2 separate regions of the Homo sapiens genome follow, and region 2 is linked to region 1. Evidence: fine-mapped expression QTL. A gene starts in region 1. The other region holds a variant in brackets. All regions are shown on one strand. Distances are between the middles of the regions.

What was found. PIP is the estimated chance that this variant, and not a neighbour inherited with it, causes the effect.
Region 2: its variant is the best candidate, but not a certain one, in a credible set for the expression of EXOSC1 in stomach (GTEx, PIP 0.78).

The regions. Positions count from the first base shown.
Region 1 is chr10:97,437,380-97,449,666 of GRCh38, forward strand. EXOSC1 (exosome component 1) reads right to left here and starts at 8,627. Exons shown (of 8, transcript NM_016046.5): 1 at 8,576-8,627; 2 at 8,353-8,468; 3 at 5,858-5,932; 4 at 3,792-3,880; 5 at 1,291-1,324; 6 at 321-371. The coding sequence starts at 8,606. It overlaps ZDHHC16 (zDHHC palmitoyltransferase 16), which reads left to right and starts at 8,796. Exons shown (of 12, transcript NM_198046.3): 1 at 8,796-8,974. RefSeq lists enhancers at 7,756-8,336, 8,337-8,916 and a silencer at 8,848-9,057.
Region 2 is chr10:97,407,753-97,420,039 of GRCh38, forward strand. LOC644215 (a long non-coding RNA gene) reads right to left here. Exons shown (of 2, transcript NR_157582.1): 2 at 10,995-11,743. Among named protein-coding and RNA genes, the nearest start is that of PGAM1, 12 kb to the right of the region's middle. RefSeq lists an enhancer at 10,846-10,895. The variant A/G (reference allele first, on the strand shown) is at 5,242.

The DNA.
Region 1 (12,287 bases):
TTGCTCCGTTAACCAGGCTGGAGTGCGGTGGCGTGATATCAGTTCACAACCTCTGCCTCACAGGTTCAAGCGGTTCTCCTGCCTCAGCTTCCCGAATAGCTGGGATTACAGGCATGTGCCACCACGCCCAGCTAATTTTTGTATTTTTAGTAGAGACAGGGTTTCACCATGTTGTCCAGGCTGGTCTCGAACTCCTGACCTCAGGTGATCCACCCGCCCTGGCCTCCGAAAGTGCTGGGATTACAGGCATGAGCCACCACACCCGGCCTCCTTCTCTTCTTTTGACAAAGGACCAGAAGTCTGCTGGGAATAAAGGATACCACTTTGGCCAAGACAATGTCACCTGGGCGGAAACTCTTATAAATTTCAACCTGTAAAGAAAGAACAGGAATGTTAAGTGAAAGCTCTAGACTGGGTCTATATGAAACTGTGAACGCTTCTGGTAAAGCCAATCTACTTTCTAATCCTGGAGGGTAGAAATCATCATTACTCATGTCAAGTCAAGAACTTTTAATTGCTTCTACAGTATTATCATACAAATGAAAATTTTTTTTTTTTGAGATGGAGTCTCGCTCTGTCGCCCACACTGGAGTGCAGTGGTGCGATCTCGGCTCACTGCAACCTCTGCCTCCCGGGTTCAAGCGATTCTCCTGCCTCAGCCTCCTGAGTAGCTGGGATTATAGGTGCATGGCACGACACAGGCTAGTTTTTATATTTTTAGTAGAGACGGGGTTTCACCATGTTGGTCAGGCTGGTCTTGAACTCCTGACCTTGTGATCCGCCCACCTTGGCCTCCCAAAGAGCTGGGATTACAGGTGTGATCCACTGCACCCGGCCCTTTTTTCTTTTTTTTTAAGAGGTGGGATCCCACTGTGTCACCCAGGCTGGAGTGCAGTGATGCAATGGTAGCTCACTGCAGCCTTGGACTGCTGGACCAAGGGATCCTCCTGCCTCAGCCTCCCAAGTAGCTAGGACTACAGGTGCGTGCCACCACTTAACCTCAAACTCCTGGGCTCAAGCAATCCTCCAGCCACATCCTCTCAAGCAGCTGGGACTACAGGCATGAGCTACCATGCCTGGCCAATTTTTGAATTTTTAAAATTTTTGTAGAGACAGGGTCTCGCTATGTTGCCAGGGCTGGTCTTGAAGTCCTGGACTCAAGTGATCCTCCCGCCTCAGCCTCCCAAAGTACTGGGATTACGGGTGTGTGTGACCATGCCTGGCCTGAGATAATACTTTTAAGGGATTGAGATACGTAAAGCCATTAAAAAAAAAGAACCAACCAACAACCTTGTCTTTTTCAGTTGCTCGGACATCTTCCTTGCTATAAAAAAAGAATTAACAGAAAGATTAATTACCTGTGAGAAAGAATTTTTTTTTTTTTTTTTTTTGAGACAGAGTCTCCCTCTGTCACCCAGGCTGGAGTACAGTGGCGCAATTTTGCTCACTGCAACCTCCGCCTCCTGGGTTCAAGCAATTCTCGTGCCTCAGCCTCTCAAGCAGCTGGAATTACAGGCACGTCCGCCATGCCCAGCTAGTTTTTTGTATTTTTAGTAGAGATGGGGTTTCACCATGTTGGCCAGGCTGGTCTTGAACTCCTGACCTCAGGTGATCCACCCGCCTCAGCTTCCCAAAGTGCTGGGATTACAGGCATGAGTCACCTTGCCCAGCCTGTGAGAAAGAATTATTCTGTAGATTCCTAGTAAATAAAGAGCTACAAGAACAGACAGAACAAGTTGTAAATGGGACACAGCTGCTACCCAGAGGAGCAGGGTGGAGAAGCATCCTCAGACCACATGGAGAGGCAGTATCAATACCTCTGATTAGATAAAGGCAGATCGGATTTGGCAAGAAAGGATAAGGAATTTCGTTGCCTCAGGGCTTGAACAGAAGCACTATAGCAAGGGCCCCCAACTTCTGGTGGCCTGTGAGGAACCGGGCTGCATAGAAGGAAGTGAGTGGCAGGCAAGCTTCATCTGTATTTACAGCTGCTTCCCAATCGCATACATTACTGCCTGAGCTCCGCCTCCTGTCAGATCGAAGTGGGCATTAGATTCTCATAGAAGTATGAACCCTATTGTGAACTGCACATATGAGGGAGCTAGGCTGCCCACTCCTTATGAGAATCTAATGCCTGATGATCTGTCACTGTCTCCCATCACCCCCAGATGGGACCATCGAATTGCAGGGAAACAAACTCAGGGCTCCCGCTGATTCTATATTATGGTGAGCTGTATAATTATTTCATTATATATTACAGTGTAATAATAACAGAAATAAAGTGCACCATAAATGTAATGCACTTGAATCATTCTGCAACCACCCCCTCCATGGTCTGTGGAAAAACTGTCTTCCAAGAAACTGGTCCCTGGTGCCAAAAAGGTTGGGGACTGCTGCACTACAGAACCACATCAAATCCTGAGGCTGGAAAGGGCCTCAAAAGTTAGATTATCTGCCTGGCAAGAAATGTTTGTCCTTTCTCAAGGAAGCCACACGAAATCACCATCTCACCCACAAATCTTTTCAATGTTTTATAACCTCTGAGTTCAATCTATATTAAATTTTAAAGTGCTTCCTAAAATGCCTTCTACTTTTTTTTTTTTTTTTTTTGAGACGGAGTTTCACTCTTGTTGCCCAGGCTGGAGTACAATGGCACGATCTTGGCTCACCGCAAGCTCCGCCTCCCAGGTTCAAGTGATTCTCCTGCCTCAGCCTCCCTAGTAGCTGGGATTATAGGCATGTGCCACCACGCCTGGCTAATTTTGTATTTTTAGTAGAGACGGTGTTTCTCCATGTTGGTCAGGCTGGTCTCGAACTCCCGACCTCAGGTGATCCGCCCGCCTCGGCCTCCCAAAGTGCTGGGATTACAGGCATGAGCCACCACGCCCAGCCTGCCTTCTACTTTGGTTTGAGTCATCCTGACACTGCTAAACTTCAGCTTCACTCAATTCTTTTTGCTTTACCTTTTATTTATTTATTTGTTTTTTGAGACAGGGTCTCACTCTGTTGCCCAGGCTAGAGTGCAGTGGTGCAATCTCAGCTCACTGCAACCTCTGCCTCCTAGGCTCAAGTGATCTTCCTGCTTCAGCTCCACAAGTAGCTGGGAGTACAGGCACGCACCACCATGCCCAGCTAATTTTTTTTTTTTTTTTTTTTAAAGACAGAGTCTCGCTCTGTCCCCCAGGCTGGAGTGCAATGGCGCAATCTTGGCTCACTGCAACCTCTGCCTCCTGGGTTCAAGCGATTCTTTGGCTTCAGCCTCCTGAGCAGCTGGGATTACAGGCACACGCCAACATGTCCGGCTAGTTTTTGTATTTTTAGTAGAGACAGGGTTTCACCACACTGGCCAGGCTGGTCTCAAACCCCTGACTTTGTGATCCACCCACCTCAGCCTCCCAAAGTGATAGGATTACAGGTGTGAGCCACTGTGCCTGGCTAATTTTTGTATTTTTTACAGAGATGGGGTTTCACCATGTTGGCTAGGCTGGTCTCAAACTCCTGATCTCAAGAGATCCACCCGCCTCAGCTTCTCAAAGTGCTAGGATAACAGGCGTGAGCCACCGCGCCCAGCCTTTGCTTTACTTTTAAACCCTCTCGTTAATATTTTCCTTTTGTCCTAGATCATCCATGTATTTTTTGGATACTACTAGGGGAGAATCAAAGCACAAAGAAGAAAGAAAAACGGGCAAAAGAAAAATAGGAATTGTAACTGTTGCTCAAAATTCTGGTGTCCTAGTCTATCCTAATCTTATTCCAGTTGCTAAGGTATATGTGAAAAGGATACTTCTTACCGGATAGTTCCTCGAAAAGAGTTCTTAAGAGGCATGGACCCCACATACAGGATGTGTACTTTGGCAAAGCGTGAATTGATGCTAGAGACCTGCGGAATAGAGAAAAGATCAGCATCAGAGTATAAGCAGTTGTCAGCTCAAGGAGGCAGCAATAAACTGGGGATTACTAGGGCTTCAGTGCAAGCAACCCTACTAAGTAGAGAATTTAAGACAAATTAACTCCTACTTCTCTCTGCGTAAGTGACACATGTAAAGAGGAATAAGAGCCACTCTGGCCACCTGGTAGAGTTACTATGGGAAACAAAGGTGGTATGGGTTTTTTTTTTTTTTTTTTTTTGAGACGGAGTTTCACTCTTGTTGCCCAGGCTGGAGTGCAATGGCGCGATCTTGGCTCACCGCAACCTCCGCCTCCTGGGTTCAAATAATTCTCCTGCCTTAGCCTCCTGAATAGCTGGGATTACAGGCATGCACCACCATGCCCAGCTAATTTTGTATTTCTAGTAGAGACAGGGTTTCTCCATGTTGGTCAGGCTGGTCTCGAACTCCTGATCTCAGGTGATTCGCCTGCTTCAGCCTCCCAAAGTGCTGGGATTACAGGTGTAAGCCACTGCATCCGGCTGGGTTTTTTTTTTTTTTTTTAAATCTTTTCACAACTTGCCCTTCAGAGAGGTATAGACTTTTTAAAGTATAGATGGCTAACAATTAAAAAAAAAAAAAAAAAAGAGGCTGGACACAGTGGCTCATGCCTGTAATCCCAGCACTTTGGGAGGCTGAGGTGGGCGCATCACTTGAGGTCAGGAGTTCAGGACCAGCCTGGCCAACATGGTAAAACCCCACCTGTACTAAAAATACAAAAATTAGCCAGGCGTGGCAGCACATGCCTATAATCCCAGCTACTCGGGAGGCAGAGGCAGTAGAATTGCTTGAACCCAAGAGGCCAGAGGCTGCAGTGAGCCGAGATCGTGCCACTGCACTCCAGCCTGGGTGACAGAGCAAGGCCCTGTCTCAAAAAAAAAAAAACAGGAATGGCAAAAAATAAAGTCTTTTGCTTCTCTGCAGAAAAAGAACTCAGCTTCAGATGTTCAAAAATAGGCCTCCTAATCATCCTCTGGCATCCCTGTTTCCCAGACACAGGTAGAACTATGTATTCAGGGAATCAGCTCAGTGAAGGAACTATGCATGCCTGAACTTGGCTGCCTTGATTATTATCCTAGAAATCTGTAAGCCTGCACAGTCCAGTAAAACTTTCTGTGATGACAGAAAAGTCATGTGCTGACCAGTATAGCAACCACTAGCCACAAGTGGCTATTGAGTACTTGAAATGTGGCTAATGTGACTAAGGAAATCAATTTTATTTTTTTCTTGAGAGACAGAGTCTTGCCCTGTTACCCAAGCTGGAGTGATCATGGCTCACTGCAGCCTCAACCCCCTGGGCCCAAGCGATCTTCCTGCTTCAGCCTCCCAAGTAGTTGGGACCACAAGCATGTGCTACCATGCCTGGCTAATTTTTTATTCTTCTTCTTCTTTTTTTTTGAGACGGAGTCTCACTCTGTTGCCCAGGCTGGACTGCTGTGACGCAGGCTCACTGCAACCTCCACCTCCTGGGTTCAAGCACTTCTCCTGCCTCAGCCTCCCGAGTAGCTGGGATTACAGGCATGCACCACCACGCTAAGCTAATTTTTGTATTTTTGGTAGAGACAGGGTTTCACCATGTTGGCCATGATTGGCCAGGCTGGTCTTGAACTCCTGACCACAGGTGATCTGCCCACCTCGGCCTCCCAAAGTGCTGGGATTACAAGCATGAGCCACCATGCCCGGCAATTTTTGATTCTTTTTGTAGAGATGAGGTTTCACTATGTTTCCCAGGCTGGTCTTGAACTCTGGGCTGAAGCAATCCTCCTGCCTCGGCCTCTTAAAGTGCTAGAATTACCAGTGTGAGCCACTGTGCCCTGCCAGAAATAAATTTATGTAGCTTGTGGCTATCATACTGGACACTGCAGTTCTGGTATGGTCATGATTTCAGTATTGAATGGGCATTCTAAGCATGGAGGTCAGGACCAACTTACCTTACAGGTTACAATAGCTCCCACATCTGGCAGTAACTGGGACTCTGTTTCTCTCACTACAGACACCACTGGAAGCTACAGAGGGAACAACAAAAAACTGAAATGTCCTGACTAACCCTTGGGTCAAGGCATTTGTGGCTTGAGAGTAATATAGGAATGTCTTGGTATAAAGGTGAGAGTTGGAGTATGGATTCATTTATAGCCCAGAGCAGAAGGCCTTAGAAATTTTAGGAAATAGGAGGACCAGGAGGCTACAGAATGCTGCTAGAAGACATACATCTCTAAACTTCTTTTTTTGTTGTTGGAGACGGAGTCTTGCTCTGTCGCCTAGACTGGAGTGCAGTGGCACGATCTCGGCTCACTGCAAGGTCCACTTCCCGGGTTCACGCCATTCTCCTGCCTCAGCCTCCCGAGTAGCTGGGACTACAGGCACCCGCCACCATGCCCAGCTACTTTTTTTTGTAGTAAATCTCTAAACTTCTAATAAGTTTTTTGGTGATTCTCTCAGAATTTCTTGGTATACAACTATATTGCCTATAATCATTGACAATTTTACTTTTTTTGTTTTTTTTTGAAATGGAGTTTCACTCTTGTTGCCTAGGATGGAGTGCAAGGGTGCCATCTTGGTTCACTGCAACCTCCACCTCCTGGGTTCAAGTGATTCTCCTGCCTCAGCCTCCCGAGTAGCTGGGATTACAGAAGCCTGTCACCATGCTCGGGTAATTTTTTGTATTTTTAGTAGAGATGGGGTTTCACCATGTTGGCCAGGCTGGTCTCGAACTCCTGACCTCAGGTGATCCACCTGCCTTGGCTTCCCAAAGTGCTGGGATTACAGGTGTGAGCCACTGCGCCCTGCCGACAATTTACTCTTTCCTCCAAAGTTATACTGCTTCCTTCTGTTTCTTATTTTATTGCACAGGCTGAAATTTCCACAAAAATGTTACATAATAGCGGCTATGCTTGTTTTCTTCTATTTTAAGTGAATACTTGCAGAGTTTTCTCTTTGAGCATGGTATTGGCTGTTGGTATAAGACAGATATTTTGAGCCTCATCTTTTATCAATCTCTCCGTTGCTCACAATGCTTCAGCTCTCCTGGCCTTCTTTCAGTTTCCCCAACTTACTAAATTCTTCCCACTTTCAGATCTCTCTTCAACCTATTCTTTCTGCCAGAGCTGCACTCTCTCCACCCACCTGACTCTTACCTACTCTTTAGATGATTCAGCTTAAATGTCACTTCTGCTGACTAGGATGGGTTTGCCTGTTACATGTTCTCAAGGTGCCCTGTAATATTCTTTCAAAGCACCACCACATATGTAACCATATGCTCATTTGAGCATTTATTTGTTTACAATTTGTGTCTGTGTCCTTTGATAGCAGAAACCAAGTCAGCGCTGTGCCTGACACATGAAAATACTCAAGTGATATCTATGAAATGAACAAACTCAGGACTGTTAAGAACATTCCCAACAATGACTGAATAGAAAGCCCCTTGAATCAGACAGCTTAAGTTACTTACTCAAAGCAGAATCAAAGTCAAGTTAGCCAGAACGTAACTGTTCTAATTCTGAATCCTCTTTCTATTGTGCTCCTTCAAATATTGCTTATATGATCCTGAGCTAATCCTGGATCTATCTCTGAAACTAGAAAGGTAGGTATTACTCACACATTCAACATTTATTGAGGAGCTGCCTTGTGCTATATACGGATGGTATGGTGGTAGGGCCTGCTTTCACGGACTTAGATTTAAGCAGGGGAGAAGTCTAGTAGGAAACATATACCTGAGTGTCTCATCATATGCTGACATAGTGCTTGGAAGAAAAGGAACAGAGTTTTTTGTGAGTCTTTAACAAAACAAACAAAAACAAAACACCCCACAAAACTCCTTTCCTCAATTAGTGGGTCCAGAAGGACTTCTCTGAGGTGATAGTAGAGAAGCTATCTAAAGGAGGTAGGAATTAAATAGGCCTAGGAAGATAGAAGCGTTCCAGATAGATGGCATGTTACAAAGGCTCTGTAGCAGGAGAAAGCTTGGCGCATTACCGACACTGAAAGAAGCTAGTATGTTATAAAAAATTTTTAAAGGGCAAGCAGAGACTGTGATTATAACTTTTAAACACAGAAAAGACAGTATGACTAGATTGCGTCAGTGAGGTGGAGATAGTGGCGCTAGATAAAGTCGGAAAGGTAAGCAACATTCATACAGTATGCAACTCACTGCTGGGCTGAGCTGGGCTGGGATGGGATACTGAGTTCGCATCTGCTTTTGTCCCAACTTCCCTCCCCGAGGGTCAGCAGCACAACCAAGCGAGATCAACACAACTAGTGTGTGGTGGCTAAGTGCACCACAGCGGCGATACGGCTAGAAGAAACTAAGAGACCAACATTGTACCACTGAGGCACTAAAGACGCGTCCGCAGTGCCCATGCCTAAGGACTGGAACTCAAGGGCAGCCTAAGGGAAAAACAGAGGGGAGATGGCATGCCGCTTCCTTTACCGCGCCATTCTCGCTGCTCTTCATCAGACAGCCGGCAAGCGACGAAAAGATGTAGCCGTGGCGGGTGTAGGTGCCGCTGCCCGGGCTGCCCTCCTCCAAGTTACACAGACGTTCGCCTGCAGAAAAAATGCTGCATCGGTCACGGGCCCCCAGAAGCTGTAGGCCGTTTAGCCTTCTTGCTTCAGCCCCTATCCAGGACTCTGTACGGGAAGCGCTCACTTACCGGGGATGCAGTATCTCACAGGTGGCGCCATGATTGCCGCTGTCCCAAAACCAGGATGAAAACGAAGTCGATTTCTCATTGGCCAAACCCAGGCACAGTTCCGCAGTAAGACACGTGTCAATTGGTACTCTTTATCCTTGCGAGTAAACTCCATTTCCCAGGTTACCCCGGGACAAATCCGGGGGCGGAACTTCAGAGGTCCACGCTGGCGCCTGCGCGTGTGGTTGAGGATGGGCTGGCGGCGGGTCCGGGTCCGCTGCCTGGCGCTGCGGGCGGCGGGCCATGGTGGTTTGGATTGAGCCGGGCCCGGCCGGGGCGCCGAGTCGGAGGGGGTGGCAGTGAGCGGCGGCAGAGGCTACGGGGCTCGGTTTGGCTGACTGGGGAGTCGGCAGGCGGCAGGTAAGGGCGAAGCCTCGGCCCTTGCTCCCCATCCTAGTCCCTTTTTCTGGGTAGGGCACTGCCCTGGGGCCTTGTCTTGAGTGCGGGTTCCTGCTCTCTCCTCGCCCCGCCCTGCGGGGCCGTGCCCTCCTCAGCCCGAGCGCACCTTCCGAGCAATCGTTACGCTCAGAGCAGGAGGGAAGGAGGTCAAGCGACCCAACTCGTCTGTTTCACAGATATGGAACCTCAGATTCAGAGACAGGGTTTGACTTGTCCAAAATGATCAAGATAGTTAAGATAGAGCCCAAACTGGAACCCACGGTTTTTGACTTCCAGTCCATCGCAGTTTCACCTCGCGGCTGTCATTGAGAAATAAAACCTTTTCCCGGTTTTTTTGTTTTGTTTTTGAGGAGTCTCGCTCTGTCGCCAGGCTGGAGTGCAGTGGAGCGATCTCTGTTCACTGCAACCTCCGCCTCCCGGCATCAAGCGATTCTCCTGCCTCAGCCTCCCGCGCAGCTGGGACTTACAGGCGCGCGCCACCACGCCCAGCTAATTTTTGTAGTTTTAGTAGTGACGGGGTTTCACCATGTTAGCCAGGATGGTCTTGATCTCTTGATCCGCCCGCCTCGGCCTTCCAAAGTGCAGGGAGTACAGGCATGAGCCACTGCCTCCGGCCTTTTCCCGGTTTTTTAAACTGCAGCTTCCAGTCCTGCGGTCCGATCCTCTTCGCGGCCCCTCATCCCCACTTCAGTAAGCTTTCTCTGGTTGAAAAAGCCGAACTCTGGTTGTGTGGGCCCGTCATCAAAAGATAAGCAGCCCCAAAATAAAGTTGTTACTCTTTTTCTTCTCAGCGTGTTAGCCCAGAAGGGAGGTCTGCACATGAATAAAATGCTACTCTTTATTGATGTTGGGTATCTCCTACTTGAGATTGCAAACATCCTGAGAGCAGCGTCTTTGTCCAGATGACATTCGCCACGACTTTGATCTCAGTTCACCTGACTTCTGATGGCTTTGCCGTCTGTCCTTCCCTGTCCCCTCAGTCGACTTTCCCATTGGGAAACAGATGTGACTTAAAGCCATGGGAAGAGGGGAGTGTTGTGGCCAGCAATCTCCTCCAGTCTGGTGGCAGATGACCAGTATGGCCTGTGACTATTACTGAAGGATCAGAGTACTCGGGCTTGTGCTTGGGGTGGTAGTAAAGCTGCGCTTTGCTCTGTTTCCTCCCGTTCACTGAGATTAGCCCCTTCTCCCCTACACACATCTTTTTGAATTTTGCTTTACTTCTATTTCTTGAGATGAAAAGTCTGGGCCAGGTGCGGTGGCTCACGCCTGCAATCCCAGCACTTTGGGAGGCTGAGGCAAGCACATCACCTGAGGTCGGGAGTTTGAGACCAGCCTGACCAACATGGAGAAACCCGGTCTCTACTAAAAAAATACAAAATTAGCCAGGCGTGGTGGCACATGCCTGGAATCCCAGCCACTCAGGAGGCTGAGGCAGGAGAATTGCTTGAACCCAGGAGGCGGAGGTTGTGGTGAGCCCAGATTGTGCCATTGCACTCCAGCCTGGGCAACAAGAGTGAAACTCCATCTCAAAAAAAAAAAAAAAGAAAAGTCTGTGTGTTCAGTTGCGGCCCACTTACTACATATGTAATTTTCCTGGCATCCCATACCCCATTAGCTAATGGAGAGAGGCCCTAGCCTCAGACTTTGTTCACCCAAATCTGTATCTGTGCGTCTAGGAGCTTTCTGTTTACACGGTTGGGCTGATTTCTGGTTGGGCTTGTTTTCAAAAACGACTTCTAGCTCCTAAGTGCCATGATTTTAATAACAGTTTGTATTTCTCTCTTTATGAATCAGGAAGAATGATAACAGCAGACACTTATTTAGTGTTACCACATTGGCAGGAGTGTCCTTGCTGGTATTTGTAGGACAGATAGACATCTGGCCAGGCTTTCCACTTCTGCATCCCTCCAGGTCATTCATTCAACAAATATTTATTGAGTACTTCCATGAGCCGGGTATTGTGCTAAGTGCTTTATAAACATTTCATTTACACTTACCAAAGAAGTTTGCTCTTCATACCTGTGGGTTTCACATTGCTGATCCAATCCAACCATGGATTGGAAATATTTGGGGGCAGCTGGGCATGGTGGTTCGCTCACACCTGTAATCCCAGCACTTTGGGAGGCCAAGGCAGACAGATCACCTGAGGTCAGGAGTTCAAGACCAGCCTGGCCAACATTGCGAAACCCCGTCTCTACTAAAAATACAAACATTTGCTGGGCGAGGTGGCAGGTGCCTGTAATCCCAGCTACTTGGGAGGCTGAGGCAGGGAGAATTGCTTGAACCCAGAAGGCGGAGGTTGCAGTGAGCCGAGATCTTGCCACTGCACTACAGCCTGGGCAACAGAGCGAGACTTCATCTCAAAAACAAACAAAAAAAGTGTTTATGTGTAGCATTTACTTTGTATTAGGTATTATGAGTAATCTAGAAATGATTTAAAGTATATGGGAAGATACGTATAGGTTATATGCAAACACTATGCCATTTTATATCAGATTTGAGCATCCATGGATTTTGGTATCTGAAGGGAGGACTGGAACCAATCCCTCCGCAGATATGGGGGTTGACTGTATCTGTATAGTTACAGAATCATAAAAGGTTAGAGCTGGAAGGGACCTTAGCATTTAATCCTACTCCCTCACTGAATGTGAACACAAGGAGATTGAGTCCCAGTAGAGTTGAATGATTTGTCTGAGGTTACGGAACTGCTTAGGGACAGAATTGAACCCTAAAGAATTGGGTAAATCTGGTCTTTGAGGCAGACATTTCCTGCAGCGCTGAAGAATTTAGGACATGTTTAAGAATGATCTGAAAAGTGGAGAATAGAAGTTTTTTTTTTTTTTAAGACTAGAAGAGGTGTGAGGTAGTATATAATTCGAGTTTATTACAAACAAGGAGTGCATTGGATTTGCATGCCATTGCTACAAAAAGTATTTTGGCAAATAGGAAACTCTCCATGACCTATAGAAAGGGAATGAACAGCAGTGTGGACAGTCCAAAAGCCACCTAGATTTGTTGTGGGGTAATCTGTTTTGTCCCACTCTTACATTTGATTGTGGGTGTCTACTATTTTAAAAATTCATGCTACAAGCCAAATCATGCTTCCAAACAATAGGGGTGGAAGTTTGAGCGTGAGCTTTTAATTTTTTTTGAGGTGGAGTCTCACTCTGTCTCCCAGGCTGGAGTGCACTGGCGCGATCTTGGCTCACTGCAACCTCCACCTCCCGGGTTTCAGCGATTCTCCTGCCTCAGGCTCCCAAGTAGCAGGGAT
Region 2 (12,287 bases), 30 kb before region 1:
ATCCATGATCAGCCCCTCCACATATGGTTAATAAGGACCACCACATCTGTAGGATAGGTCCTGCAGTTAGACTCTCTGGGTTGGAATTCAAGTACCACCACTTGCTCTGTGACCTTGAACAACTCACCTTACTCTTCCCTGAGCCTCAGTTTTCCACATCTGTAAAATGGAGATGATAAGAATGCCTACCTGTCTGATTTATGGGAACTAAATAAGATAATGAATTTTAAGTGCTGAGCACGCTGCCTGGTACACAGTGAGCATGCAATAAATGTGAGCTATTATTATCATCTAAAAAAACTCTTCCTCAGTTCCAAAATACTTTTTCATTAATTCTCTAAGTGAGGAGGACAGAGCAGGTGTCCTCATTTCACAGATGGGGAAACATAGTTCTAAGGGGTTCAGTGACACCCCCAAGGTCACACAGTGAGCAGAAGCCAGGAGATCCAACGCTTAGCCCAGGATGAACCCCCTCCCCCCATAGCACTGCCCTTGTTTTTTTTGTTTTTTTCTGTTTTGAGACGGAGTTTCGCTCTTGTTGCCCAGGCTGGAGTACGATGGTGCAATCTCGGCTCACTGCAACCTCCACCTCCCGGGTTCAAGCGATTCTCCTGCCTCAGGCTTCCTGAGTAGTTGGGATTACAGGCATGTGCCACCAAGCCCGGCCAATTTTGTATTTTTAGTAGAGACAGAGTTTCTCCATGTTAGTCAGGCTGGTCTCGAACTCCCGACCTCAGGTGATCTGCCTGCCTTGGCCTCCCAAAGTGCTGAGATTATAGGCGTGAGCCATCGTGCCGGCCTGCACTGCTCTTAAAACTGTCTGCAAGGCTCCTGTGGAGGTAACAGAGCTGCCACACCCAAAGTTCTGTGGCCATGCGGAGCAGTAAAACCAGTTTTAGGTCAGCAAGTTGTAATCTGTTATGACACTGGGCAGGAAGAAAGGGAAATTGAGGCTTAGCCTCTTGCCTCAAACAAAGAGGAAGCAGAGGTCTGGGTGTTTAACCTAGAGCTCAAGGTCAGGGCATTTTGACCAACCCGTTGTTGTTGCAGCTGCTCCGGACGGTTTTCCTAACTGCTGGAGCTGTGTTGAAGCCCAGGCTTTGGACTTAGGAAGCCTGGGTTTGGAGCCACATCCCAGCTGCGTGAGCCGGGGCAGGCGGCTGAGCTCTGTGAGCCACAGTCTTCTCATCTGAAAATGGGGCTGCTGTTATGAGGCTAAAATGAGATAATGCATGTGAAATCCTTAGCCCAGTGCCTGGCACAGCACTGCTGCAGGGGTCAAGTGTCCCTCAGCTCCTGGGGCATTACAATTCCATTTGATGCTGGGTGTGGTGGCTCACGCCTGTAATCCCAACACTTTGGGAGGCCAAAGTGGGAGGATCGCTTGAGCCCAGAAGTTCAAGACCAGCCTGTGCATCATGGAGAAACCCCAACTCTACAAAAAACACAAAAATAGCCAGGCATGGTGATGTACGCCTACAGTCGCAGCTACTCGGGAGGCTGAGGTGCAGGAGGTCAAGTCCGCAGTGAGCCATGATTGTGCCACTGCACTCCAGCCTGGGTGACAGAGTGAGACCTTGTCTCAAAAAAAAAAAAAAAAAAAAAAAAAAAATCCAAAAGCCAAAAAGAGCTTGCTTTCTAGAATAACTCTTGGGGAAAGAGCCTGGTGTGCTGGAGAGGAAGCATGTCCCCTCCTAGGCTGAGGAAGACTGGAATCTGGGCATGGCAGGGGACTCTGCTCAATGGGGAGGACTGTTCTCTCTCCACTTACCCCAAAATTAAACCGTTCCCCATTTACCACTTCAAATTCTTCATTCTTCTCAGGGCCTCTATATCAGTAAGGAATTGTGTTCAGTTGCTATAAGAGACTGCTACAGTGGCTTAAACAGGCAAGGGTTAATTCTCTCACATTCAAGAAATGGAAATCAGGAGGTAATGGGCAGTCCAGGCTGCTATGGCAGTTCCACAGAATCTTCAGGATCCTGGGATCCCTCTCTTTTTCTGCTTCAACCTCCATAACGTATGACTTCCATTTTCACTGTCACCTTGTGCTCCACAGATGGGCTGCAGGAGCTCCAGCTGTCACACTCATGATCCAGGTGGAGGCCTAGTGTAGGAAGGAAAGGAGGAAGAGCCAAAAGGTGCACCTTCCAGCTAAGTCAGTTCCACTTGATTGACTAGAATTTAGTAATTTGGCCAAATTTAGCTGCAGAAGGGGCTGGGAAATTTAGTCTTTTAGTTGGGTAAGTTGCAGCTCACCCCCTGTGCCTATTGAGAGAAAGGAAGAATTGATATTGGGGAGGCAACTAGCAGCCTCTGGATCTCAGCTGGGTGTTAGGAGGACTGGTTCTAATTAATTTAACCCAGTTACATACTCAAAAGTTATTTCTTGATCACCTATTATGTGCAAGGTACTATGCTAAGCACACATATGAAAGTATTTAAAGAAGCTTATGGGCCGGGCACCTGACCAGCCTGACCAACATGGTGAAACCCCATCTCCACTAAAAATACAAAATAAGCTAGGCATAGTGGCATATGCCTGTAGTCCCAGCTACTTGGGAGGCTGAGGCAGGAGAATCACTTGAACCCGGGAGGCTGAGGTTGCAGTGAGTCGAGATCACGCCATTGCACTCCAGCCTGGGCAACAAGAGTGAAACTCCATCTAAAAAGACTCTTGGCCGGGTGCGGTGACTCATGCCTGTAATCCCAGCACTTTGGGAGGCTGAGGCGGGTGGATCACCTGAGGTCAGGAGTTCAAGACCAGCCTGGCCAACATGGTGAAACCCTGTATCTACTAAAAATACAAAAATTAGCTGGGCATGGTGGCGCACACCTGTAATCCCAGCTACACGGGAGGCTGAGGCAGGAGAATCATTTGAACCTGGGAGGCGGAGATGGTAATGAGCTGAGATTGTGCCACTGAACTTCGGCCTGGGCAACAGAGCAAAACTCCGTCTCAAAAAAAAAATAAATAAATAATAAAAGAAAAAGACTCTTGCTCTGCCTTAAGAAACCTACAGGGGATAGGGCTGGGCGCGGTGGCTCACACCTGTAATCCCAGCACTTTGGGAGGCTGAGGCGGGTGGATCACAAGGTCAGGAGATCAAGACCATCCTGACTAACATGGTGAAACTCTGTCTCTACTAAAAATACAAAAAATTAGCCTGGCGTGGTGGCGGGCACCTGTAGTCCCAGCTAGTCGGGAGGCTGAGGCAGGAGAATGGAGTGAACCTGGGAGGCGGAGCTTGCAGTGTGCCGAGATGGCACCACTGCACTCCAGCCTGGGCAACAGAGCGAGACTCCGTCAAAAAAAGAAAAAAAAAAAAGAAGCCTACAGGGGATAATTAGCCAGGCATGGTGGCACACGCCTGTAATCCCAGCTACTTGGGAGGCTGAGGCATGAGAATTGCTTGAACCTGGGAGGTGGAGGTTGCAGTGAGCCAAGATCGCGCCACTGCACTCCAGCCTGGGCAACAGCAAGATACTCTGTCTCAAAAAAAAAAAAAAAAAAAAAAAGAAAGTAACCTATGGGGGAATGGTGAAAAGACAAGCACAAAACTCTTCGGTTTTCTTATTTGTACATTGAAGATGTTGTACCCAGAGCTCTCTAAAGCCCCTGGTAACTTTATTGTTCACTGATGCTCAATTAATAGAATTGCATTTTGCTTCTCTGCCTCCCTCATCTGACCATCTGACTGTGAAACCCCTGATTACAGGAACCATGTCTGGTCTACTCTGGCGCCATCAGAGCCTACCACAGTGTGTGGCTCAATACATCTGCTTGCCAAGTGAACACATGACTTATGCAGAGCTCAGCAAGGGGCACAAGAGAGGTTCAGATAACGCTCTTAGGGTGTCTAAGAGGGGCTGTCCAAGGTATATCTTTTATGTCTGTCAACCAGACTGGAATGCAGTAGTCATGCAAGCTGGAATGCGATCACGGTTCACTGCAGCCTTGACCTCCTGAGCTCAAGCAATCCTCCCACTTTAGCCTCCCAAGTAGCTGGAACTACAGGCATATGCCACCATGCCCAGCTAATTTTTAAATTTTTTGCAGAGACAAGGTCTCCTTATGTTGCCCAGACTGGTCTCAATATTCTGGGCTCAAGCAATCCTCCTGCCTCAGCCTCCCAAAGTGTTGGGATTATAGGCGTGAGCTATCTTGCCTGGACAATAATTTTTGAAGGTTGCAATCAAGGAAAATAACAGAAATGTTGGTCCATCATTTATCCAACCACTATACCATCCTGCCAAGTAGATTGGGCATTGTGGCAGAGAAGAGGAGAGGAAAATAGCATTTAATGGATGTATCCTTTGTGTCAGGGGCTCTCTGTGGTAATAAGAACTATCATTTATTAGCCTCTATAGACCTGGCACTTCACATGTGTGATCCTACTGAGTCCTCGCAACCACTGTATAGGGTAGGTGCTATTATTATGCACATTTTATTTTATTATTATTATTTTTTATTTATTTTTGGGACTGAGTCTTGCTCTGTCGTCCAGGCTGGAGTGCAGTGGCATGATCTTGGCTCATTGCAACCTCCACCTCCCTGGTTCAAGCAATTCCCCTGCCTCAGCCTCCTGAGTAGCTGGGATCACAGGCACATGCCGCCACATCTGGCTAATTTTTTTGTATTTTTAGTAGAGATCGGGTTTCACCACGTTGGCCAGACTGGTCTCAAACTCCTGACCTCAGGCAATCTGCCTGCCTCGGTCTCCCAAAGTGCTAGGATTACAGGGGTGAGCCACCGCGCCTGGCCTATTATTATTTTTTCTTTTTTTCTTTTTTTAATTAGAGACAGGGTCTCACTATGTTATCCAGTCTGGTGTCTAACTCCTGGCCTCACATGATCCTCCTGCCTTCGCCTCCCAAAGTTCTGGGATTACAGTCACGGGCCACTGCACCTGGCCTATTATCCACATTTTAAAATGGGGAAACCAAAGCTAGGGAAAGATTCCCAATAGCATTAAGTGGGGAGTTATAATTGTAATTTACTCCTCTCCCAATTCCTGTTCTTTATAACCATTTGGTTACCAAGCAATGAAAGCAGCCTAGCTCTCACATCTAGAGTTCACAGGCTGGTTGGGGTGGCAGTAAACAATCCCTGTGGCAATCAGTGCCATCATCCAGGTATGGTCAGGAGCTATGGGAGTCCAGAGCCTGGCAGACTATAGTCATGTCTGAGAGGCGAGTCAGGGCCAATTTTCAGGTGAGGTGACGTTGGAGCTGAGTGCT[A/G]CAGCATGAGCTAGAGTTGACCAGGAAGCTGAGGGTGGCTGTTCAGGCCAAGCAAGGCCACAGCAGCTACAAAGGCACAGGGGCAAGTAAGAACACGATGTGTTTGCTCTAGATGCAGGCAAGACCTGAGTCACTGATGTGTCGGAAACTGCTGCATCAGTACAGGAAAGAAACCATAAGGGTTGAAACTAAGAATGTGGCAGCGGGGGCAAAGAGGGAAGGACAGATTGGAGAAGGTATCGGGGAGGTAGAATGACACGTGAAGGCTAGCGGTTATGAGGGGTGAGCACGGTTGCCGTGTACAGTTGTGAAGTATGTGGACTGCTTAGTTTCCCAGATGAGGGGTCTGAAATCCAGTCTTCATTGGTGCCTTGTAGAGAAGAAGAGTTGGCCTTTTATTTTATTTTATTTTATTTTATTTATTTATTTTTTTTTAGGCGGAGTCTAGCTCTGTAGCCCAGGCTGGAGTGCAGTAGCACAGTTTCAACTCACTGCAGCCTCTGCCTCCCAGGCTCAAGCAATTCTCCTGCCTCAGCCTCCCAAGTAGCTGGGATTATAGGTGCCCGCCCCCACGCCCAGCTAATTTTAGTATTTTAGTAGAGACAGGGTTTCACTATGTTGGGCAGGCTGGTCTCCAACTCCTGACCTCAGGTGATCTGCCCACCTCGGCCTCTTAAAGTGCTGGGATTACAGGCGTGAGCCACCACGCCTGGAGTTGGCCTTTTTCTCATTCCCCAGTGACACCATAGAGGCATATGATGCGTACAGGTATACGAGGCTCAGAGGCATGGAGGCAATGACACCACAGAGGAAGTGAGAATCAATCGCTCCCAGGAAGGCAAGATTCCAGAATACGAGTGTGTCTAAAGAAAAGACCATCTCTCAACATCTGAACCAAAAAGCTGCATTTACTACAGTACTTACTTAAGGGAGGTGGAGCTGGGCCTGTTAGGTGCAATCCCTGTGAGTGGAGCAGGGCACTGATCTTATATAAGGTGCTAGGAGGTTGAAGATCAATGGTGGGCACATATCAAGGGAGGTAGTGTTTAGGGATTGGTTGGCCAACCAGTGTGGCTGTTACCGATTGGCTGGTGTCAGATGTCTGGTCACTGAGGAAAATTGTTCAGCTGAAGGGAGAGGAATTGTCTTTAAGTGGCTTAAAACTGGTTATGGTGGTGACTTGTTGCCATGGCAGCAGAACAGTCTTTCCTGTGGGTATGAGCTTTTTTTTCCCCCTCAAGTGACTGTAGCTCAAAACATTCACTCTCAGAGGTTGTTTTCTTTTATAAAGGACCATGTTGGCTCTGGGGAGGGAAGTTCACAGGCTGGCTAGGGTCAGAATACTTGCCTGGCCCAGGTATTCAAAGGTCCAGTTTGTCACCTCTCCAAGATCCTGTGGCTGAGGTGTTTCCAACACAGGGAATCAGGGAAGTTAGTTGCATTGTAAGGAACATACCTAATCAGAAATGGGACCTAGGGCTGGGTGCAGTGGCTCACACCTGTGATCCCAGCACTTTGGGAGGTCAAAGCAGGAGGATCCCCTGAACCTAGGAGCTTCAGACCAGCCTGGCCAACATAGTGAGACCCCATTTCTTAAAAAAATAAAAAAGCCCGGGCGCGGTGGCTCACGCCTGTAATCCAAGCACTTTGGGAGGCCGAGGCTGGTGGATCATCTGAGGTCAGGAGTTCGAGAGCAGCCTGACCAACATGGTGAAACCCTGTCTCTACTAAAAATACAAAAAATTAGCTGAGCATGATGGCGGGTGCCTATAATCCCAACTACTCGGGAGGCTGAGAAAGGAGAATCCTTTCAACCCGGGAGGCAGAGGTTGCAGTGAGCCGAGATCGTGCCACTGCACTCTAGCCTGGGTGTTACAGAGCAAGACTGTCTAAAAAAAAAAAAATTAGCGGGGTGTGATGGCACATGTTTGTAGTCTCAGCTACTTGGGAGACTGAGATGGGAGGATTGAGCTCAAGAGTTTGAGCTCAGGCTGCGGTGAGTCATGATCACACCACTGCACTCCCACCCACAAGACACAGTGAGACCTTATCTCAAAAAAAAAAAAAAAAAATCAGAAATGAGACCTAGGATCCCGGACTCCCAGTCACTTCTTCCGTAAAGGAGAAGATGAGGTGCTGGTGGGCAGTGTGGTGCAGCTGGCCAGACCTTACAGCCAGCTTTTGCCCCTGCCTTCTCCACAGAAGCCTCTCCTTGGTCTCTCCTTTATGTCTCTCCTTGGGCTTAGTGGGAACCACATGTGTTTGCCCAACCACAACCCTAAGAACCATCCCTGGAGCTGCCATGGGAGGTTCTGAGCTCTGTCAGGACTAGGGTAAAAGCAGACGGATGCTTTTCTGCAGCTCAGTGGCCACTTAGATCCACCAGAGCTACCCGCCCACTTCACTCCCATTGAGCAAAGGCTTCTGGTAGGTAGGCTCGGGTGGGTTTGTTTTTTAAAATAATTGTTTAAAACTTTTGGTCAGGTGCGGTGGCTCATGCCTATAATCCCAGTACTTTGAGAGGCCGAGGTGGGTGGATCAACTAAGGTCAGGAGTTCAAGACCAGCCTGGCCAACATGGTGAAACCCTGTCTCTACTAAAAATACAAAAATTAGCTAGGCATGGTGGCACAAATTTGTAATCCCAGCTACTCGGGAGGCTGAGGCAGGAGAATCACTTGAACCCAGGAGGTGGAGGTTGCAGTGAGCTGAGATCGTGACACCGTACTCCAGCCTGGGTGACAGAGTGAGACTCTGTCTCAATAAAATAAAATAAAAAATAAAGTGTACAATTCAGTGGTTTTTGGTATCTTCACAGATGTGTGCAACATCACCACAGTCAACTTTAAAACATTTTTTGGCACCTCAAAAAGAAACCCCACACCCTGTATTTATCACCCCCAACCCTGCCAGCCCCTGGCAATCACTAATCTACTTTCTGTCTCTATAGATTTGCCTATTCTGGACATTTCATATAAGTAAAATCATAAACCATGCAGTCTTTTGTAACTGGCTTCTTTGGCTCAGCATAATGTTTTCTTTTCTTTTTCTTTTTTTTTCTTTTTTGAGATGGAGTCTCGCACTCTCGCCCAGGCTGGAGTGCAGTGGCGTGATCTCGGCTCACTGCAAGCTCCGCCTCCCAGGTTCACGCCATTCTCCTGCCTCAGCCTCCCAAGTAGCTGGGACTACAGGCGCCCGCCACCACACCTGGCTAATTTTTGTATTTTTAGTAGAGAAAGGGTTTCACCATGTTAGCCAGGATGGACTCGATCTCCTGACCTTGTGATCCGCTCACCTCGGCCTCCCAAAGTGCTGGGATTACAGGCGTGAGCTACCGCGCCTGGCCTATCTTTTTCTTTTCTTTTTTTTTTTTTTTTAGAAACAGGGTCTCACTGTGTTGCCCAGACTGGTCTTGAACTCCTGGACTCAAGTGATCCACCTGCCTCAGCCTCCCAAAGTGCTAAGATTACAGGCATAAGCCACCATACCCAGGGAAGAGAGCTGATTGGCTGAGGGCCCCTCCTAGCATTCAGATGCTGTGCTGCCCATGGGCTGCATCCAGTCATGACTTAGCATCCCTGTATCAAGGATGTGAAGGCAGGCTGGTCCTGGGAGCCTGAGGACCCCTCTGAAGAAGGGTAACTTCGGCTGGAGTAGCCCCCAACAGGCTTGCTGAATTTTCCCCAGAATTGCATTTGCAATCTAAGACGACGCTGCCACCCACCAAACCTTCCTTCCTCCTTCCCTTACGCAGCATCACACCTGTGCTCCCAGCCCCATTTCCTGTCACAGACACTTCTAATATATTTCCTGCACATCCTGTCTTGGCAACTGCTTCTAGGAGATCCTGGACTGAAGGGGTGGGTTGCCTCTTCACACCTGTGGGTGTTTCTCGTTAGGTGGACTTGGAAAAGAAAGAGACACAGAGACAAAGTATAGAGAAAGAAATAAGGGGGCCCAGGGGACCAGCGTTCAGCATATGGAGGATCCCGCCGGCCTCTGAGTTCCCTTAGTATTTATTGATCATTCTTGGGTGTTTCTCGGAGAGGGGGACGTGGCAGGGTCATAGGATAATTGTGGAGAGGTCAGCAGACAAACACCTGAACAAAGGTCTCTGCATCATAGACAAGGTAAAGAATTAAGTGCTGTGGTTTAGATATGCATACACATAAACATCTCAATGCCTTAAAGAGCAGTATTGCTGCCCGCATGTCCCATCTCCAGCCCTAAGGCGGTTTCCCCCTAAGTAGATGGAACATACAATCAGGTTTTATACCGAGACATTCCATTGCCCAGGGACGGGAAGGAGACAGATGCCTTCCTCTTGTCTCAACTGCAAAGAGGCGTTCCTTCTTCTTACACTAATCCTCCTCAGCACAGACCCTTTACGGGTGTCGGGCTGGGGGACGGTCAGGTCTTTCCCTTCCCACGAGGCCATATTTCAGACTATCACATGGGGAGAAACCTTGGACAATACCTGGCTTTCCTAGGCAGAGGTCCCTGCAGCCTTCCGCAGTGTTTGTGTCCCTGGGTACTTGATTCATTTTTTTTTTTTTTTTTTGAGAGGGAGTTTTGCTCTGTCGCCCAGGCTGGAGTGCAATGACGTGATCTCTGCTCACTGCAAGCTCCGCCTCCCAGGTTCACGCCATTCTCCTGCCTCAGCCTCCCGAGTAGCTGGGACTACAGGCGTGCGCCACCTCGCCCGGCTAATTTTTTGTATTTTTAGTAGAGACGGGGTTTCACCGTGTTTGCCAGGATGGTCTTGATCTCCTGACCTCGTGATCTGCCTGCCTTGGCCTCCCAAAGTGCTGGGATTACAGGCGTGAGCCACCGTGCCTGGCCTGTCCCTGGGTACTTGAGATTAGGGAGTGGTGGTGACTCTTAACGAGCATGCTGCCTTCAAGCATCTGTTTAACAAAGCACATCTTGCACAGCCCTTAATCCATTTAACCCTGAGTTGACACAGCACATGTTTCAGAGAGCACGGGGTTGGGGGTAAGGTTACAGATTAACAGCATCTCAAGGCAGAAGAATTTTTCTTAGTACAAAACAAAATGGAGTCTCCTATGTCTACTTCTTTCTACACAGACACAGCAACAATCTGATCTCTCTTTCTTTTCCCCACACTGGACTAACACACTGCTAATCTCCCAACAATTCACTAAACTTGATGCAAATCAATCCCAAATAACTAAGTTTCTGCCAGCTTTTTTTTTTAAATTTTTTTAGAGACAGGGTCTCACTTTATTGCCCAGGCTGGAGTACAGTGGCTATTCACACGTGTGATCATAGCATATTGCAGCCTCAAACTCCTGGCCTCAAGCCATCCTCCTGCTTTAGCCTCCTGAGTAGCTGGGACTACAGGCACGTGCCTCCTGTGCCCAGGACGTCAGCTTGTTTTGAATGTACAATTTTGAGGTCAGGCTCAGTGGCTCACACAGTGCTTTGGAAGGCCAAGGCAGGAGGATCGCTTGAGGTCAGGAGTTTAAAACTGGCTTGTGCAACCCAGGGAGACCTTGTCTCAAAAAAAAAAATGTGATCCAAGATTAATATAGACTGAGAAATCAGTTTTATGTGAATGAAAGCAGAAGGGTCAAAATGTGCTTATTGCCCTGGTTTGAGCATTTTACCATTACAGTTTTCACACAGGGTCTAGTGGCAGAGGGCTTGACGCACACCAGGTGGTTTTGAGAGTGCCATAAATTTAAAAAAGAAAGAGGCTTGGACTAAAGCCTGGCCTTAGAAGTCTGACAATGCGGGCGGATCAGGGAAACCTGGGTGCTGTCAGGGAAGTTCTTTTTTTTTTTTTTTTTTGAGACGGAGTCTCGCTCTGTCACCCAGGCTGGAGTGCAGTGGCGCGATCTCGGCTCACTGCAAGCTCCGCCTCCTGGGTTCACGCCATTCTCCTGCCTCAGCCTCCTGAGTAGCTGGGACTACAGGCGCCCGCCACTACGCCTGGCTAATTTTTGTATTTTTAGTAGAGATGGGGTTTCACTGTGTTAGCCAGGATGGTCTCGATCTCCTGACCTCATGATCTGCCCGCCTCGGCCTCCCAAAGTGCTGGGATTACAGGCGTGAGCCACAGCGCCTGGCCTGGGAAGTCCTTGAGGAAGCCGCAGGCTGCCGGAGAGCCCTCCTCTTTCTTTTCCGGCAGCACCAGCTCCAGCTCTGTTTACCTGCAGATGGCGACTGCATTTCGGGCGGGGGCAGTCAAAGTCCCTGAAGCACTGCTTTCTCTCCTAGAACCTGAGTCTTGAGGCATCATCTGGGCTCATGCCCTCTCTGAAACATAAATCCTGTACTCCACAGACACCAGCTGAGCCGGGAGATCTGAACATCAGGCAATGAGTTTGCAAGATGGTTTAACAACTATGAACATGTGGTGTCCTCACAGGAATCCTGTGGGCTGAACAGCAGCCGCCCCTCCTTCCACCCAGCACAAAACTTGGTTTGCCCCGCTCACTCTAAATCTGGGCCTTCAATGAATGTTCAGTGGAGTTCTTCTGTGGAAAAAAATAAATGGGAAAGGAAGGCTGGAGAGGCCTTTATTAGCCTAAGGGGCAGTGGAGGGTAAAAGGGCTGTGACTCTTGGTTGGCTTCTTCTTTTTCTTTATTGTTTTTTGTTTTGTTTTGTTTTGTTTTTTCTGGTAGCTTCTTTATCTCAGTGTTTTTTCTTTTTCTTTTCTTTTTTTTTTGAGACAGGGTCTCACTCTGTCACCCAAACTGGAGTGCAGCAGTGCAATCATAACTTAGCGGGGCTCAAGCAATCCTCCCACCTCAGCCTCCCTAGTGGCTGGGACTACAGGTGTGCACCACCACACCCGGCTAATTTTTGTATCTTATTGTAGACACAGGTTTTCGCCACGTTGCCCAGGCTGGTCTCAAACTCCTGGGCTCAACTGATCCCCTTGCCAGGGCTTCTCAAAGTGCTGGGATCATAGGCATGAGCCGCCATGCCTAACCCTTATCTGAGTTTTTGTAACAGTTTGACCAACAAGCTTGTTGTTGGAAAGCTGTAAGAGTCCTGGAAATTTCCCTGGGGCCTGA